Regions from separate parts of the Homo sapiens genome. Here region 1 is linked to region 2. Evidence: fine-mapped expression QTL. A gene starts in region 2. The other region holds a variant in brackets. All regions are shown on one strand. Distances are from middle to middle.

The links. PIP is the estimated chance that this variant, and not a neighbour inherited with it, causes the effect.
Region 1: its variant is fine-mapped to the expression of RARRES1 in transverse colon (GTEx, PIP above 0.99).

Annotation. Positions count from the first base shown.
Region 1 is chr3:159,005,199-159,013,536 of GRCh38, reverse strand. No RefSeq gene overlaps it. Among named protein-coding and RNA genes, the nearest start is that of IQCJ, 60 kb to the left of the region's middle. The variant T/C (reference allele first, on the strand shown) is at 4,280.
Region 2 is chr3:158,729,360-158,737,670 of GRCh38, reverse strand. RARRES1 (retinoic acid receptor responder 1) reads left to right here and starts at 5,214. Exons shown (of 6, transcript NM_206963.2): 1 at 5,214-5,531. The coding sequence starts at 5,256. LOC100287290 (a long non-coding RNA gene) reads right to left here and starts at 5,310. Exons shown (of 5, transcript NR_171782.1): 1 at 5,143-5,310; 2 at 3,634-3,720. RefSeq lists an enhancer at 4,762-5,262 and silencers at 5,340-5,399, 8,125-8,303.

The DNA.
Region 1 (8,338 bases), 280 kb before region 2:
TTCTTCTTTTCTGTATTACGTAGCATAAGTCAAGGACAGTTAAGCAGTTGATAAAGGATGTATTGTTTTTCAAAAAGGCAAACATAAATATAAAAGTATAAAAGGTTATAACCAAAATTTTAAGAGTAAATATCTCTGGATGGTGAAATTATGGATTTTTTTTTATTTTTATTAATTCATATTACCTAGTTTTCTAATATGAACACGAATTACATTATATAATGTTTCAAAATAAGACAAAAGGTTAACTGAAACCATAGCTTCTCACCTGGAAGGATAATACCTGACTCATGGACTCCCATGGCCTTTATGCCCCAGTGCCAACATGTAAATAATCCTTCCAATAGTCTCACCTCATCCCTTCCTCTAATCCCTCCCCTGATCTCCTTACTGGGGCTGAGGAGAAAGCAAAGTGCAAATAACTAGGTATTAAAGTAATATTTGGTGATTCAAATTAGTTTAGCCAATATAACCTTTACAGGACTCTTGTTAAAATGTACACAAAGACTTTTATCGATCCCAAGCACAAATACAAGATTCAATTTAAAACATCTTGTGTTTCTGCTGAAGCCAAAGCAATGACAACCCCTGTAAATTCCCTAAGGGAAGACCAGAAATGCACTGAGTGATATATAATAGCTATCTCCCAAGAAAAGAACAAGAAGCCATTTATGAAATCTTACCATGTAGGAAGACTAATGTGTCTATTAAAAGCAAAAATGTGAACTCCAGGTCTTCTCATTGGGGACTGATTTAAATGCAGTTTTGCTAAATTAGTGGTAGAAGAGATCTAAAGTAGAAGACTAACAATGAAGTCACATAAAACAGTACATCCTTGGTAGGAATAATTTATATGGTACAATTCCTACACAAAGTAGACGAGTAAATAGGTTAGACAATTGTTTTTCAAGGTGCTACTATATAGGGAAGCAGTGCTTTTTTCATCAAACCCACATCATGTTAATAAGAAATTGTTTTCAATATTCACTTTATTAAGAAGACTAACTCATTTTAACAAAGTTAAGCATTCATAAACATTAACTGTACTTTATAATTGGAATTTTTTCTAAACTATATCTGATTTTTACTCCAGAAAGCCAATATTAAAGGCCAACATGATATGAAGAACAGTCAGCAAGTGACTTCTAATCCTATCAAACAAATTATAAATGCTTTGCAACATAAACATTTTCTATTGCCTCATTTGTTCTCACTTATTTTCTCAATGTTTAGAACCCTTTATCAGGCTTTTAGGGAGCAGTATCTGTCAGTCTGTCAGCCACTTTGGGTTAAATTCAAGCTCATCTGTGCCCGCTGCACAAACAAACATAAAAGTCTATTAGAAGCATGAAGAAATGTGCTTATAATCTCTTATAGAAACCAGAAGTCTTTCCTATAGACATGACTTCATATGCATACTACAAGGCTACAGTAACCAAAACAGTATGGTACTGGTACCAAAACAGAGATATAGACCAATGGAACAGAACAGAGCTCTCAGAAATAATGCCACATATATCTACAACTATCTGATCTTTGACAAACCTGACAAAAATAAGAAATGGGGAAATGATTCCCTACTTAATAAATGGTGCTGGGAAAACTGGCTAGCCATATGTAGAAAGCTGAAACAGGATCCCTTCCTTACACCTTATACAAAAATTAATTCAAGATGGATTAAAGACTTAAATCTTAGACCTAAAACCATAAAAACCCTAGAAGAAAACCTAGGCAGTACCATTCAGGACATAGGCATGAGCAAGGACTTCATGTCTAAAACACCAAAAGCAATGGCAACAAAAGCCAAAATTGACAAACGGGATCTAATTAAATTAAAGAGCTTCTGCACAGAAAAAGAAACTACCATCAGAGTGAACAGGCAGCCTACAGAATGGGAGAAAATTTTTGCAATCTAATCATCTGACAAAGGGCTAATATCCAGAATCTACAATGAACTCAAACAAATTTACAAGAAAAAAACAAACAACCCCATCAACAAGTGGGTGAAGGATATGAACAGACACTTCTCAAAAGAAGACATTTATGCAGCCAATAGACATATGAAAAAATGCTCATCATCACTGGCCATCAGAGAAATGCAAATCAAAACCACAATGAGATACCATCTCACACCAGTTAGAATGGCGATCATTAAAAAGTCAGGAAACAACAGGTGCTGGAGAGGATGTGGGGAAACAGGAACACTTTTACACTGTTGGTGGGACTGTAAACTAGTTCAACCATTGTGGAAGTCAGTGTGGCGATTCCTCAGGGATCTAGAACTAGAAATACCATTTGACCCAGCCATCCCATTACTGGGTATATACCCAAACGACTATAAATCATGCTGCTATAAAGACACATGCATACTTATGTTTACTGCAGCACTATTCACAATAGCAAAGACTTGGAACCAACCCAAATGTCCAACAATGATAGACTGGATTAAGAAAATGTGGCACATATACACCATGGAATACTATCCAGCCATAAAAAATGAAGTGTTCACGTCCTTTGTAGGGACATGGATGAAGCTGGAAACCATCATTCTCAGCAAACTATCGCAACAACAAAAAACAAAACACTGCAGGTTCTCACTCATAGATGGGAATTGAACAATGAGAACACATGGACACAGGAAGGGGAACATCACATACTGGGGCCTGTTGTGGGGTAGGCAGAGGGGGGACGGATAGCATTAGGAGATATACCGAATGTTAAATGACGAGTTAATGGGTGCAGCACACCAACATGGCACATGTATACATATGTAACAAACCTGCACGTTGTGCACATGTACCCTGAAACTTAAAGTATAATAAAAAAAAGAAATGACTTCATACGTCCCACTGTTTCCATCCCATCCTTTACTCACCAAACTGCCCAAACAACAAACACACACGTACACACACTTTAGATTTTAAAACATAATTAAGAAAAAGATACTGAACCGTATGAAAATATTCTTTGACAGAGGACATAATTCTCCTCTATACAACAAAACAAAAACATCTGTTAATCCAGCTCCTTTATTTCACTTTTACAATAAGAAAGCTCAGAGGTTCTGTAGATGTCAACAACAAACACATGCCCAAAGGCATAAAAAGATGAGAAATGCAACCACCAAATCAGCAGCAGCAACACCAGGTAGGGAAGGTACCCTGGGTACTGCTCGAGGCAGCTAGCAGCCTTCAGTGTTTCGCAAGCCATCAGACTTCGTTAGAACAGATGTTACTTAGCCACCAGAGAGGTCTTGGTACCACGCATGCCTGCCTGCCCAGCGAAGGAAACTTTATTGTATGGAAGAGTTAGTATACTCTGTTCAAGTCTCCTTTCTCTTTCTTCTCAGAGGTCCTGAAAACTAAAAACAAAGGCAAAGAGAGTGAAGTGAGGAAGAAGATGATCTATTCTGAATTGACTGTCAGTAAAGAACATGGCTTCTGCTCTGGCTTTGTGGAAGAAATCACAAAAATATGACGGTCCAATGTGTTCTTGGGAACAGGGAGAAGAATATTACCTGGGAACAGCCTGGGACACTGCAAGGAAGAGAGCGTCCACATCATTTGAATAAGCTACAAGTGATAAGTCATTTTTCATTAATTCAGCTAACAAACATTTATTAAAAGCCTACTATGTGCTGGTACTGTTCTAGGTGCTGAAGATACAGCCTTAAATAAGGTGAAGAAGGTCCCTGCCCTCAGATGTGTACATTCTAGTCGAAGAGACCTAAAAAGCTAGGAATAAATAAACTCGGGTAATGTAAGTGCTAGGAAATAAAATTAGGCAAGATAAAAGAATGGAAAAGGTCCAAAGGTGGATGGGCAGGGGTGCGAGGGAAGGAGGCTGATGGTTATTTTAGATAGGGGGGTCAAGATGGACCTACATACACCAACCAAGATTCCAGCAAGGTCAACCTTTGGCTGCCTGCTAAATGTGATTTAAGATACGCTGCCAGGAAAGGACGCATCCATTTATTCATTCAAAAATGTACTGCTGGACATGACTAGTGTGTACTGGACACTGCTGTGCATTAGGGATACAGGGTAAGCAGAAAGAAACCAAAACAAAACATGCTGCAGGAAGGTAGCCCTTAACCAGGTAAACGGCCAAATAAATAAAGGGCTATCACTGGTGACTTTTGCCAAAAGTGCAACAAAGGAAACTGCACTTATTCAAACTGAAATAGCTAGGCGCTAAAACCAACAGAAGCCATCCATGCTCAGAGGTTTTCTGGCTTCTCAGCTAACAGAGATTTGATGGCAAGTGGGAAGGGGAGGAA[T/C]GTGGACAGGATCCAAGCCTGAGGTTACTGAAAGTCTGGAAAGGTAAGAAGGCTTCCCAAGGGTTGAGAAGGTCACAGAAAGGGGTGTGGGTATGAATCTGGAGGTTCTTGGAGGTGGAAGGTACCTTCAAGTAAATTAAACAAAACCCACACCCATTACTTAGGTGAGGCAACCAAAGCCCAGAGATGTCAAACGGCTTGCATAAGGTCACAGAACTAGATCATGGGATACCCGCAAGTAGAATCGCAGTCTACTTGTCAGTGAAGTTAAGCATTTACACTGAAATCTATATTTCACTTGGGGTGGGTAGGGAGGGTGAACAACAGGTATGTGTTTTCCCTCTATTTTCAAAATCTGATGAAAAAGAGGAGGAATTAAGAGGAGAATTTGCGATTAGACTCAGAGAGCTCACAAGTCTCAGAAATAATCTGTAAGTCCTCTTTAAAATAAATCGGGATTTTATTTAAACACAAAGTCAACCTTCAGACACAGTAGACGTGAAATCCTCCTGTTAGGGCAGGGATTTGCTGGAGCTCATTAATTCTGAGCAGGGTTGTTTCCCGCCCAGCTTTCTTCAGTGTGTACAGTATTTTCATTTTTCTTGCTCTTACTTTTTTGGGCACTGAGCCCAGCTCTGAGACTCCTGGGTACAGGCATTTACAGAGAAGCTGCTGTTGGGCCTGCACGCTGGTACCATCCCACAGCAGAAGAAAGGGAAGATAAACCACCATTTATTTCTAAGTGTAAACCTTTTAGTTACTTAGAATGGTGATGCTCTAAATAGCCAGAGTGTTCTAAGTGGTAACTTATCTTCATTCTCCTGACACACGACATTGTCAGCACAGCCTGTTTTGGCATGAGAGGAGTCCTAGCTAGGGGCAAGATTCCTCAGGATAACCTGATGTTTAGCAGAATGATTACCAGTATGAATATTTTATCCATATCTCTTTGATAATCCTTGAGACAGAGTTTCACACTTGTTACCCAGGCTGGAGTGCAATGGTGCGATCTCTGCTCACCACAGTCTCTGTCTCCTGGGTTCAAGCGATTCTCCTGCCTCAGACTCCCAGATAATCCTTTTAAGGGTAGGCAATGAACCTAGACAGTCACTAATGAGGTTTGGGTAGTTTGCTGTTTTTTTCTGGAATTTCACATCAGTAGTCAGTGGCCCAAGCTCAGCTTCATTGGCCACAAGGCAGAATGCTTTTAGATAAGAATGAGCTTGCACTCTGCTTTCACCAAGGAATTCTTTAAAAAAAAAAAAAAGGAAATAAAATAATAATAATTAAAAAAAAACCTCCAGATTTTCTTTTGCTTGTTTTTGTGTGTTTGCTTTTTACCCTGTTTTCTGGAACTATGTGGAAGTTGAACCTATCAAAGTGAGATGGCCTCAGCCAGATGCATGGGCCAGAGTCCCACAAGAGATCTCTAGATTCTACATAAGAAGGGAAAGCAGGGGAGTAGGGCAAAAAAAAAAAAAAAGAAGGGGAAGCAAAATACCCCCTGCCTTCAGGGTCAGCCTCCCTTAACTAACTTTCTGTTCCCTGCCTGGAAAAAAATCAGCAAGGGGGAAAACTGGGATACACAGATTTTATTTCACTGGCTTCCTTCCTTTACTTCCTCTTCCCCAAATTTCCCAAGGTAGAAAAGGGTCAGGCTTTTTTCTTATCTCCTCTGCTCTCCAGGCTTCTTCTACCATGAAAGATATAGAAGGCAGCCCCGTGGCTTTGCTGTCATAGGCAGGAGTATCATTTTTGGTTCCTTCCTATGTTGAAGGAGGGAGATAATGATCTTTTCAAAATCCTCTCTCCAGATAACAGCCTGGCTTTCCAGGCTATCACCTTGCTGGGTGATCCTACTTTGCATATCAGAAACTAATAATGCTCTCCTCTCAGGTAGATGGGCTTCTCAAACTAACTGGAAATGCTTATGGACCCAGAGAAAAGAAGCATGCCCAGGAATAATATTTTAAATATTATCCCTCTGACTTGTAGATGCTACCTGGGTGATGGATGTTTACATCGTTTCTTTCTTTTGCTATTACAGATATTTCTGCAAGGATGAACATACATACTTACCTGCATGTGTAAGTATGTCAATAAGATAAAATCCTAGATACAGAATTGCTCAAACTTTGTATTTATATATAACGTTTGCAAAACTTAAAACACAAAATGGAAAGTTAGGTGAAGATGAGTGGGAAGAAGTGAAAGTCTTTGAAATTGTGTGGGAGAACAGAACTCCAAAACATTACCAAAACAATTTATTCAGACTGCACTCACATTTTTCATGCCAATGGTACAACTCTCAGAGAAAAGTATGTGAGGTGTCAGCTTCTTCATTTCAGCAAGTCAAATTTCTCGTTCCATTTTCTCATTCAGTTCATAGTTCCAGAGTACCCTGGACCATGTTCATTTGCCCTTCAGATTTTCTTTAAGATGACTGACAAAATTGCTAATGGGATGCAATGGCTTTAGACTCTAGGTCACTGGTTTTCATGTCAGTGAGTCCCATAGCAGTGTTTCCTTTTTTATTAATTTTGTTTTTGAGACAGGGTCTTGCTCTGCCACCCAGGCTGGAGAGTAGTGGTGCAATCTCAGCTCACTGCAACCTCCTCCTCCCGGTTCAAGCGATTCTCCTGCCTCAGTCTCCTGAGTAGCTGGGATTACAGGCAACCGCCATCACGCCCAGCTAATTTTTGTATTTTTAGTAGAGACAGGGTTTCACCATCAGGCTGGTCTCGAACTCCTGACCTTGTGATCCGCCCGCTTTAGCCTCCCAAAGTGCTTGGATTACAGGTGTGAGCCAAGCAGTGTTTCTTATAGAAAATAAATGACTAGACAATCACCGTGGTTACGTATTCTCCTCTAGTTCATTTCCTTCCTAAGCTCATTCATCTGTGTTTCTACATTCTTCCACAACAAATTACAAATGTTAAATTAAAATTTCCTAGAACTTTTTCTATGTCTATATATGTATATATTTTAACTGGAAAGTAATAATGAACATACTCTTCCACACTTGCTTTTTTCCACTTAAGAACATATTTTCTGTATTTTAAATGTACAATCTTATCTTACTAATGAGATCTAACTAATTCATTTAATATATGCATAGAATTATGTTGTATGGAAGTGGTAACCTATGTGGTTAGATTGTGATAGGACCTCCATTTTGTATGTTTTATCTGTCTGTACTGTTTCATTACTTCGACAATATAATTTTTATAAAAATTGATAAATTTTTATTTAAAATAAAATAAAATAAAATTTCCACTATATGATTATTGTTGTAGATTTTTCTCCCCTCTGTGTTAGGCTCAGGATGCTCATAGTAACCTCCCCTGTTTTTCACTCTCACTCTCTAAATGTCTTTTACTTGTTTACCTTCCCCACACTTACTTCCTCTCCTTTATCTAGGTCTGTCCACTGTAATTCATTCTGTCACCCCAGCAAACTTCCACACATACGTTTGTCTCTCTTACTCTTTTGGCACAACTCCTTAAATGTCTAAAAACTCCTCTTACATTCTTCTAACATTTACCCCATCGCTACTTCCACCTACAAATTTAAAAAGAAATAATCGTTTTATCCTTTTACCAGTTTGCACTTCTGCTGTGTATATTCCTACTAAAATTTTCTAGAGGATTATAGTTGGGGAAGGAGAGAAACAAAAAAGCAGGAGAGACCCACCTTAGCCGTTTAAGAAACTAAACCATAAAATACCATATTCAACCTTTTTGTGAACATTCTTTGATATGCTGCACTGCTCTACTCCTTTAATTAAAAATAATGGTCAAATAAAAATACTTTCAGAAATTGTGAGATGACTCAGTTAAAAGGAGGATATCACTGCTGATGTATAGATAATACAATTATCTCATGACAAGGACATAAACCCCCTGAACCAGATGGCCCTGCAATTGAATTTCACAAGAAATTTAGAAACTTATTACAGGAACCACCCTGTGCTCCCAGATAGAGACTACACTTTTTTACCAGAGCATAATATGTCAGAAACAGCCAAGTGATTGAGTTTTATGCAAATCAAATAACCAT
Region 2 (8,311 bases):
TTGCTGTTAACAACATTATACCTTAGAGATGGTTCAGTATCACACACACCTCAATCTACCTCTTCTTCATGACTGTACAATATTCCATTCTATGGAGGTACTATAATTAGTCAACCATGAAACACAGGTGTTTTCCCAGCCCTTAACTCTTCATTGTTTAAAAAAAAAAATCTGTATTCGTGTCTATTGTGTGCCAGTCACTGTTCTAGGGAATAGAGAGTAGAAAATGAGACATTCAGTGTCACTGCCGTGGAGGAGTTTACAATCCATATGTGGAAATGAACATCCTTGCACATACTTCTTTATGTACATGTGTGAATGTATTGTTATTATAAACTCTCAAGGTGGAATTGCTGGGTCAGAGCCATGTGCATTTCTAATTTCAATAGATATTGCAAATTGTCCACCAAACAGGTCATGTCAGTTTCCCCTCTCACCGTCTGTACTATCTTTTCATATGATTAAAAGTCATTATAGCTTTATATACCATTAGGTTTCTTAAACACAAAGTAAGTTCTCTAAAATGCTCATGATAACCTGAGCAATGACTAAGGAACTAGGGAACATGACATATCAGGACACCCTTGTGGGGACACATCTGCTTCTGTGCAGAGGCTGGGGCAGAACCTGCTGGCTGATACTTTCCTCACCTCCTATGTGGCACAGTCTTCCAGCAGCCCTGGGCCAGGGGTGGGATATGATGACAGGTCTTTTGGAGAACGTGGTGGACAGTTAGCAATGTCACTCCCCCACACAGTATGTGGCAAGGAAGAAGAATCTGTGTACACACAAAATCTGTCTATGAACTGAGAAAAAACACAGGGATACCCATGACAGACCAAGGCCTGATTTCCCTCGTATTGAAAGAGCTTCTACAAATCAACCAGAAATCCAACCACCCCACAGGTAAGTGGACAAAGAATATGGACAGTTCTTGCAAAGGAAATACTCTGTGTTCCAGAAAATCCCTGTTTATAAAATAAATACTATAATTAAATGTCTACATGCATTGCTGATCAGCATCAATTTGCCCCCATTGTAACTGTTATCACTATTTAAAATAGCTAACCTCGGAAGAGTGCCCTGAGCTCACACAGCAGCACTTGGTCTCCTGGTCTTTTCTGTCTTCCCTCTTGCTTATGACTTTCCATGATTCTCACCATCTCATCTCATAGGCAGGAACTGCACACACGCTGCACAGGCTGCCTGTTGGCCACTATCAGCCATTCCCACCCTTCCCCTCCTCGCCTCAGTGACAGAGGTGGCTACTTCCTTCCCACTAGGCATTATCCCTGCAGGGACCCCACTGGGGCTCTGCAGATTCCCAGATCCCTTTCTCTGAGTCTGCCCCTTCCACTTGGCATGCTTTTGCTTCTGACCTAAGGCTCCTGCAGCTCTTCTGGGAGGGCTGTTCTTGTGCTACTGCCCTTTTGTGCCCACCTATAGAAAGACTGAAGTACCTGGGTTATCAACGAGGGTGGCTCTTAGCCAGTGGCTGACAGGCATAGAAGAATGGAAGCCCAGATACCCTGCCTGGGGCAGGGACATCTCAGAGGCATTGTTTACAGTTGAGAGCTCCCCTTCAGGTCAGGCTGAACCTACCTGTCATATAACTGTCTGAGATCCTTGCATGGCTATCCTTCTTCTAGCTCCTTACTGAATTCTGCTCGGAGCATTTCTTTTAGGAACAATCTTTGTTTCTGGGCCTGCTTCTAGGAAACCCAACGTAAGACACAATCTTCTTCCTCAGTAACAAAATCCTGAGTTTTATTTTGGCATATGGCCACCGTGAATAAAAACTACATTTCCCAGCTTCCTTTGCAACCAAGTTCTTGCCAATAAGATACAGGGCACAAGTGCCCTGTGAGACTTCTAGGAAATCCATAAAGGGAGTCCTGCTGATGGCTAGTGTCCATCGTGGACCCTGAGGGCAAGGGGTACATCCTCAGGATGTGGGAGCAGAGATCTGGAAAAGGCCTGGACCTCTAACAACCTCATGGATCTGCCAATACCAACCGCAGATTGTCTACCATCCCACCATTACCCCACAACTTCTTTTGAGAAATAAGTTCCTCTCCTGTTTAAGCCAATGTCATTCGGGTGTTTATTCCATGCAGTTAAATTTAATCCTAGTTTACAGACCAGACCATTGACTCTGAAAAACGACAGACACTCAGTTTGCCAGCCTCCCTTGCAGCTAGGCTTTGCCAGTGTAACCCAGATCTGGCTGAGGAGGTATAAAGGAAGGTCTTGGGGGGAAGAAAGGTGTAGGCAGGAGGTTCTGGAAAAGATATTTCTTCCTGATGCAAAAAACAAACAGGTGCACAATGTCCAGCTCTCTTTCCACTCTGGCAACCTATTCCCTGCTACCTGCCTTTGGCTGCAGCATGTGAAGATGTGCTGTCTGGAGCTGTGGCAGCCATTCTATAACCAGGAAACTACAAGTGCATGGACAAAAAGCCAACCAGCTGAGGATGGCTGTGCAGAAGGATGGAGAGAGCCTGGGTCTTTCAGAAACTCACTGAGATCTCCCACTCCAAACCAATAAATGGTCCACACTGTTAATCGGGTTTTCCATTACATACAGTTGAAAGCAATCTAACATACTCACAGGGAACAAAGCACTGAAGTAAAATCACCTGGAAGTGATCAATTCTCAAAAAGCCTGCTACTATAACCTCTTGGAGGGTGCTATAGTTTGGGTGTTTTTGTCCCCTCCAAAATTCATGTTGAAACTCAATTCCCAGTGCAAGAATGTTGGGAGGTGGGGCCTAGAGTGAGGTGTTTAGGTCATAAGAGTGGGTACTCTCTCACTCTTCCAGCATGTGAGGACACAGCGTTCCTCCCCTTCATAGGATGAAGCACGCAAAGCCCCATTTTGGAAGCAGAGACAGAGCTAAGACCCCACCAGACACCAAGCCTGTTGGTGCCTGGATCTTGGACTTCCAACCTCCAGAACTGTGAGAAACAGATATCTGTTCTTTATAAATTACCCAGTCTCAGGTATTCTATTATTGCAGCACAAAACAAACTATGGGGAGATGACTGGGTTCTGGGAGGTGATTACCTGTGCTAGGCTTGCCTCTGAGGGCAAGAAACAGCAACTCCAGCTTCAGGGAAGTGAAATAATAAGAAATAAACTCCAGGATCCGCTGATTCCTGTGTTCAACAATGCCATCAGGAACCCAGGGCCCTCCCCTCTCTCTGCTCTGCCACTCTTGAAATGGGCTTCATTCTCAGGCAGCCAGCAAGACAGAGGCATGCTTCTGGGCAGCACAGCCAGACCTAACTGGGGCCTATCGAGGGCCTGCACTCTCCCCCTTGGCTTCTCCCTCCAGCTGGATTTTCTTGCTTTTCTTCAAACATGCCAGATAGGCTCCTGCCCTAGCCTCTGCACTTGCGTTCCCTCTGCCTACAGTGCTTTTGCATACATGTCCACTTGGCTCTGCCTCCTTCAGGTCCTCACCCAAATATTACCTCCCGAGAGAGGCCTGCCCTGACCACACCTTTTAAGATTAACCACCTCCCAACTCCCCATTTCTTTTTCTGGCTTAATTTTTCTCCCTGGCATGTAACTTCATCCAATATAGCACACATTCCCTTGGCCTCACTGAGTGTCCGGGCCCCACTTGCCTAGAAGGTGTGCTCCAGGAAGGCAGAGATGTTTAAGATTGTTCACCCTCATTCCCCCAGGGCCTGGCACAGGTGTTTCACAATTATCTGCAGAAGGAAGGAAAGACAGACAAGGGACAGACAACAGCCAGAGGAAGAAGTGCAGTAAGACAGGATCTTTCCAGAGATGGCACCACGCCCATCAACCCACAGGCTTTGCTCACCATGCAGAACTGGCACATGCCCACTCTCAACCACCCACTGGCAAAAAGAGATTTCCTTTAGCCCCACAATGGCACTGGGGTCCACGTTTGGTGCAGGGGTAGACCCCTGAACAAAATGCAGGATGGAGAAATGGATGTTGGGAGTGCCTAGCAGTACCAGTTCTCCTCTCTCAGCCCTGGTTCTCCAGGACTTTTTCTCTTGCCTACGGTTTAAAAACAATGGCTATCTTAGCCCTTCACTGCCACCTGTCTAAAAAGAGTTGCCGCCGGGTACCGTGGCTCACGCCTGTAATCCCAGCACTTTGGGAGGCCCAGGCGGGCGGCTCACGAGGTCAGGAGTTTGAGACCAGCCTGACCAACATGGTGAAACCCCGTCTTTACTAAAAATACAAAAATTAGCCGGGCATGGTGGCTGTAGTCCCAGCTACTCGGGAGGCTGAGGTAGAATTGCTTGAACCTGGGAGGCGGAGGTTGCAGTGAGCCAAGATCGTGCCACTGCACTCCAGCCTGGGAGACAGAGCAAGACATGGTCTCAAAAAAAAAAAAAAAAAAAAGAGTTGCCAACACTTGCTGCCTCCATTCCCTGAAGCCCCATCCATGCCTCACCCCGCTGGAATCCGACTTCCATCCCCGGCCTTTAAATCTGCCTCGCACAGTGGTTATCAATGTATCAATGACCTACTTGCTTCTGAGACAAATGGGACTCTCAGGCCTTATCTTACCCTGCCTTGCTGCCCACTCCTCCCTCCTCGGCGCCTCTTCTGGGCAGGACCGGCAGGTGTTCAGGCCCGTCCCCAGCCCCTGGCTCCGGCGTCCCGGGCTCCCTGCCGGCATCCACCTTCACCTCCTCCCCAGCCCCAGCCCTCTGGCGACTTCTCCCACCTCCACAGTGGCTGTGCCACGAGGAGCCCCATCAATGCCCGCTGCGGCCTGCCCCTTTCTCCGCCGTCCCCTTTCACCTGCTGGGAAATCACAGCCCTAATGCTTGGAGAATCCAAGCAGTTTCCCTCTAAAACCCCAGGGTTGCGAAACCGCAGGGGAAACGCCAAGTCCCTGAGCTGGGCTAGGGACGCGGTACGAGGTAGCACGGGCGGGCCGCGATTCCTCGGGGAGGCGTCCCCATTGTCCCCCCAACCCCGACCCTCTCCCGCCGCGGCCTGGGCCAGAAGCACCCGGCCCTGCGCTGCGGAGGCGATGCCGCATCCTAGCACTAAGCCCGGGCAGCGGGGAGGGGCAGAGAGAACCCAGGGGCTGCGGGAAACGTGGAAAAGGAGTGGCCCCATGGGGACCCGGGCTCGCTACAGACCTTCGCCCTGGGGGCGGAGGGGAGGGGCCCACCACGGCCTTATTTCCGCGAGCGCCGGCACTGCCCGCTCCGAGCCCGTGTCTGTCGGGTGCCGAGCCAACTTTCCTGCGTCCATGCAGCCCCGCCGGCAACGGCTGCCTGCTCCCTGGTCCGGGCCCAGGGGCCCGCGCCCCACCGCCCCGCTGCTCGCGCTGCTGCTGTTGCTCGCCCCGGTGGCGGCGCCCGCGGGGTCCGGGGACCCCGACGACCCTGGGCAGCCTCAGGATGCTGGGGTCCCGCGCAGGCTCCTGCAGCAGGCGGCGCGCGCGGCGCTTCACTTCTTCAACTTCCGGTCCGGCTCGCCCAGCGCGCTACGAGTGCTGGCCGAGGTGCAGGAGGGCCGCGCGTGGGTGAGTGCGGAGCGACGCGCCGGGGCACGCGCCTGCCTGTCCGCGCACGGCGCTGGGAGGTGACACCTGGGTACGCGCGCCTGCCGGCCCAACGGATGGTCCGCCAGGGAAGGTGCAGTGCGCACGACGCCCGGGGAGATCCCAGCTGGGCCTGGCGCCCCTGAAGTATCCCAGGGCGTGGAAGGGGCCCCTTCGGTGCACAGCGTCTGCAGAAATCTGGCTCGTTCCTTCCAGCATTTATGAGGTCATAGGTTTTTCACAGGGCAGCGCTCTTGACTGCTCCCACACCTGGGAAAGAGATGCTTTGGGAAATTGAGGAACAGGCTGAAAGGGCAACATTTAATTTTGTCCGGAGGTACCCAGAGTTGGTTGCTATGGGGGTGCTTACTGTGCCTGCGCCCTACTAGTGGCTGCAGCCAAAGTTTTGGGCGGGATTTCCAAAATCTAAGCCAGTAGCCATACCATACCGCGGACGACTGTCTCTTGTTAATTGCAGTCCACCACGCTAGGGCTTCGGGGTAATGTGGTTGGAATTTACACGTAGGCCTGGGCAGAAACCTGCTAATGCTGGCGTCTGATTTGATCTAATTAGAAGTGAGTGAATCCGAGCCCAGTGTTCTATATGAACCGAATGAATGAGAACTTTGCAACCCGTTGTTTGGTTGCTGATTTCAAGGCATTGACTGTAGGAATTGTCTCGTATGTGTGAAGCTACTTTGCGTTCTTCATCCTATAGATTACAAAAGTTACAGAACTACACTAAGTCTGTCCCAAAAGCAAAGTTGCTCCTTCTACAACCTCCAGATATTCCACAAAGCCTGCAGACACACGGCCTCAAAGAATCTGGAATTGAGTATCGCATGTATTTAATAAATAGGTCGAGTTTTAAAGTGTAGCAGCAGGATTTTCATTTAACAGTGCCAAACGCCTGGAAGCAAACACCATTGGAAAGTCCTTCAAGAAGCTCAGCCTCGGTTCTTCAAAACTTATTCCTGTACCCGGCACGGCTGTATTTATTGAATGATTAAATCAAATTGTTCCTAGAAAAAGGCAACCTGGCCAGGCACGGTGGCTCACGCCTGTAATCCCAGCACTTTGGGAGGCCGAGACAGGTGGATCACCTGAGGTCGGGAGTTCGAGACCAGCCTGACCAACATGGAGAAACCCTGTCTCTACTAAAAATACAAAATTAGCTGGGTGTGGTGGCGCATGCCTGTAATCCCAGCTACTTGGGAGGCTGAGGCAGGAGAATCGCTTGAACTTGGGAGGCGGAGGTTGCGGTGAGCCGAGATTGCGCCACTGCACTCCAGCCTGGGTAACAAGAGCAAAACTCCCTCTCAAAATAAAATAAATAAAATAAAATAAAATAATAAAGAAAAAGGCAACCTGCTGGGGCATGGTGGCTCACGCCTGTAATCTCAGCACTTTGGGAGGCCGAGGTGGGCAAATCGCTTGAGCTCAGGAGTTGTAGACCAGTCTGGGTAACATGGCAAAGTACCATCTCTGCCAAAAATAAAAAAAATTAAAAATTAAAAAAAAATTAGCCGATGTGGTGGCGTGGGCCTGTGGTCCCAGCTACTCAGGAGGCTGAGATGGGAGGATTGCTTGAGCCCAGGACCCCAGGACCTGGAGGTTGCAGTGAGCAGAGAATGTGCCACTGCCCTCCAGCCTAGGCAACAGAGTGAGACCCTATGGGGAAAAAAAAGAGAGAGAAAGAGAGAGAGGAAGGAAGGAAGGAAGGAAGGAAGGAAGGAAGGAAGGAAGGAAGGAAGGAGCAACCTATTCTTGTCACCTGTCTTTGTTTTTTTTTTTTTTTTTTTGAGACAGAGTCTTGCTCTGTTGCCCAGGCTGGAGTGCAGCGCTGCGATCTCGGCTTACTGCAACCTCCGCCTACCAGGTTCAAGCGATTCTCCTGCCTCAGCCTCCTGAGTAGCTGGGATTACAGGCACGTGCCACCACGCCTGGCTAAGTTTTCTATTTCTAGTAGAGACAGGGTTTCACCATGTTGGGCAGGCTGTTCTCGAACTCCTGACCTCGTGATCTGGCCGCCTGGGTCTCCCAAAGTGCTGGGATTACAGGCATGAGCCACCGTGCCGGGCCATCTTGTCACCTGTCTTAACAATCCTTGCTGTCTGAGATACAAAAAAGTTCAGTTTTCCTAGTCCAACAGAGCAGTGAGATAACGGACCTTGAGAACTTTCTATCAAGGTAGAAGAGTAGTAGCCAATGCCCAGAGCCTAAAGAAGGGGCGTCTAAGGATTTGCTCCCTGGTTACCAGGGGCAGGATTCCCTGCAGAAAACCAAGCTCACTCAGATTTCTAAGGTACACCAGTTTTCAATCCCAGAGATTTTTTTTCCCCTTCCAAACCATTTTAAAAAGGAATAATAGGCTGGGCGCGGTGGCTCACGCCTGTAATCTCAGCACTTTGGGAGGCCGAGGTGGGCAGATTACAAGGTCAGGAGTTCAAGACCAGCCTGGCCAAGATAGTGAAACCCCTTCTCTACTAAAAATACAAAAAGAAATTAGCCGGGCATGGTGGCAGGCACCTGTAATCCCAGCTACTCGGGAGGCTGAGATAGAGAATTGCTTGAACCCGGGAGGCAGAGGTTGCAGTGAGCCAAGATGGTGCCACTGCACTCCAGCCTGGGCAACAGAGCGAGACTCCGTCTCAAATAAATAAATAAATAAATAAAGGAATAATAAAATAACTTGCATTATCATGCACTTAGTCACCCCCTTGAAAATAAAATAAGATATTTGACATCCTTCATAAAATAAT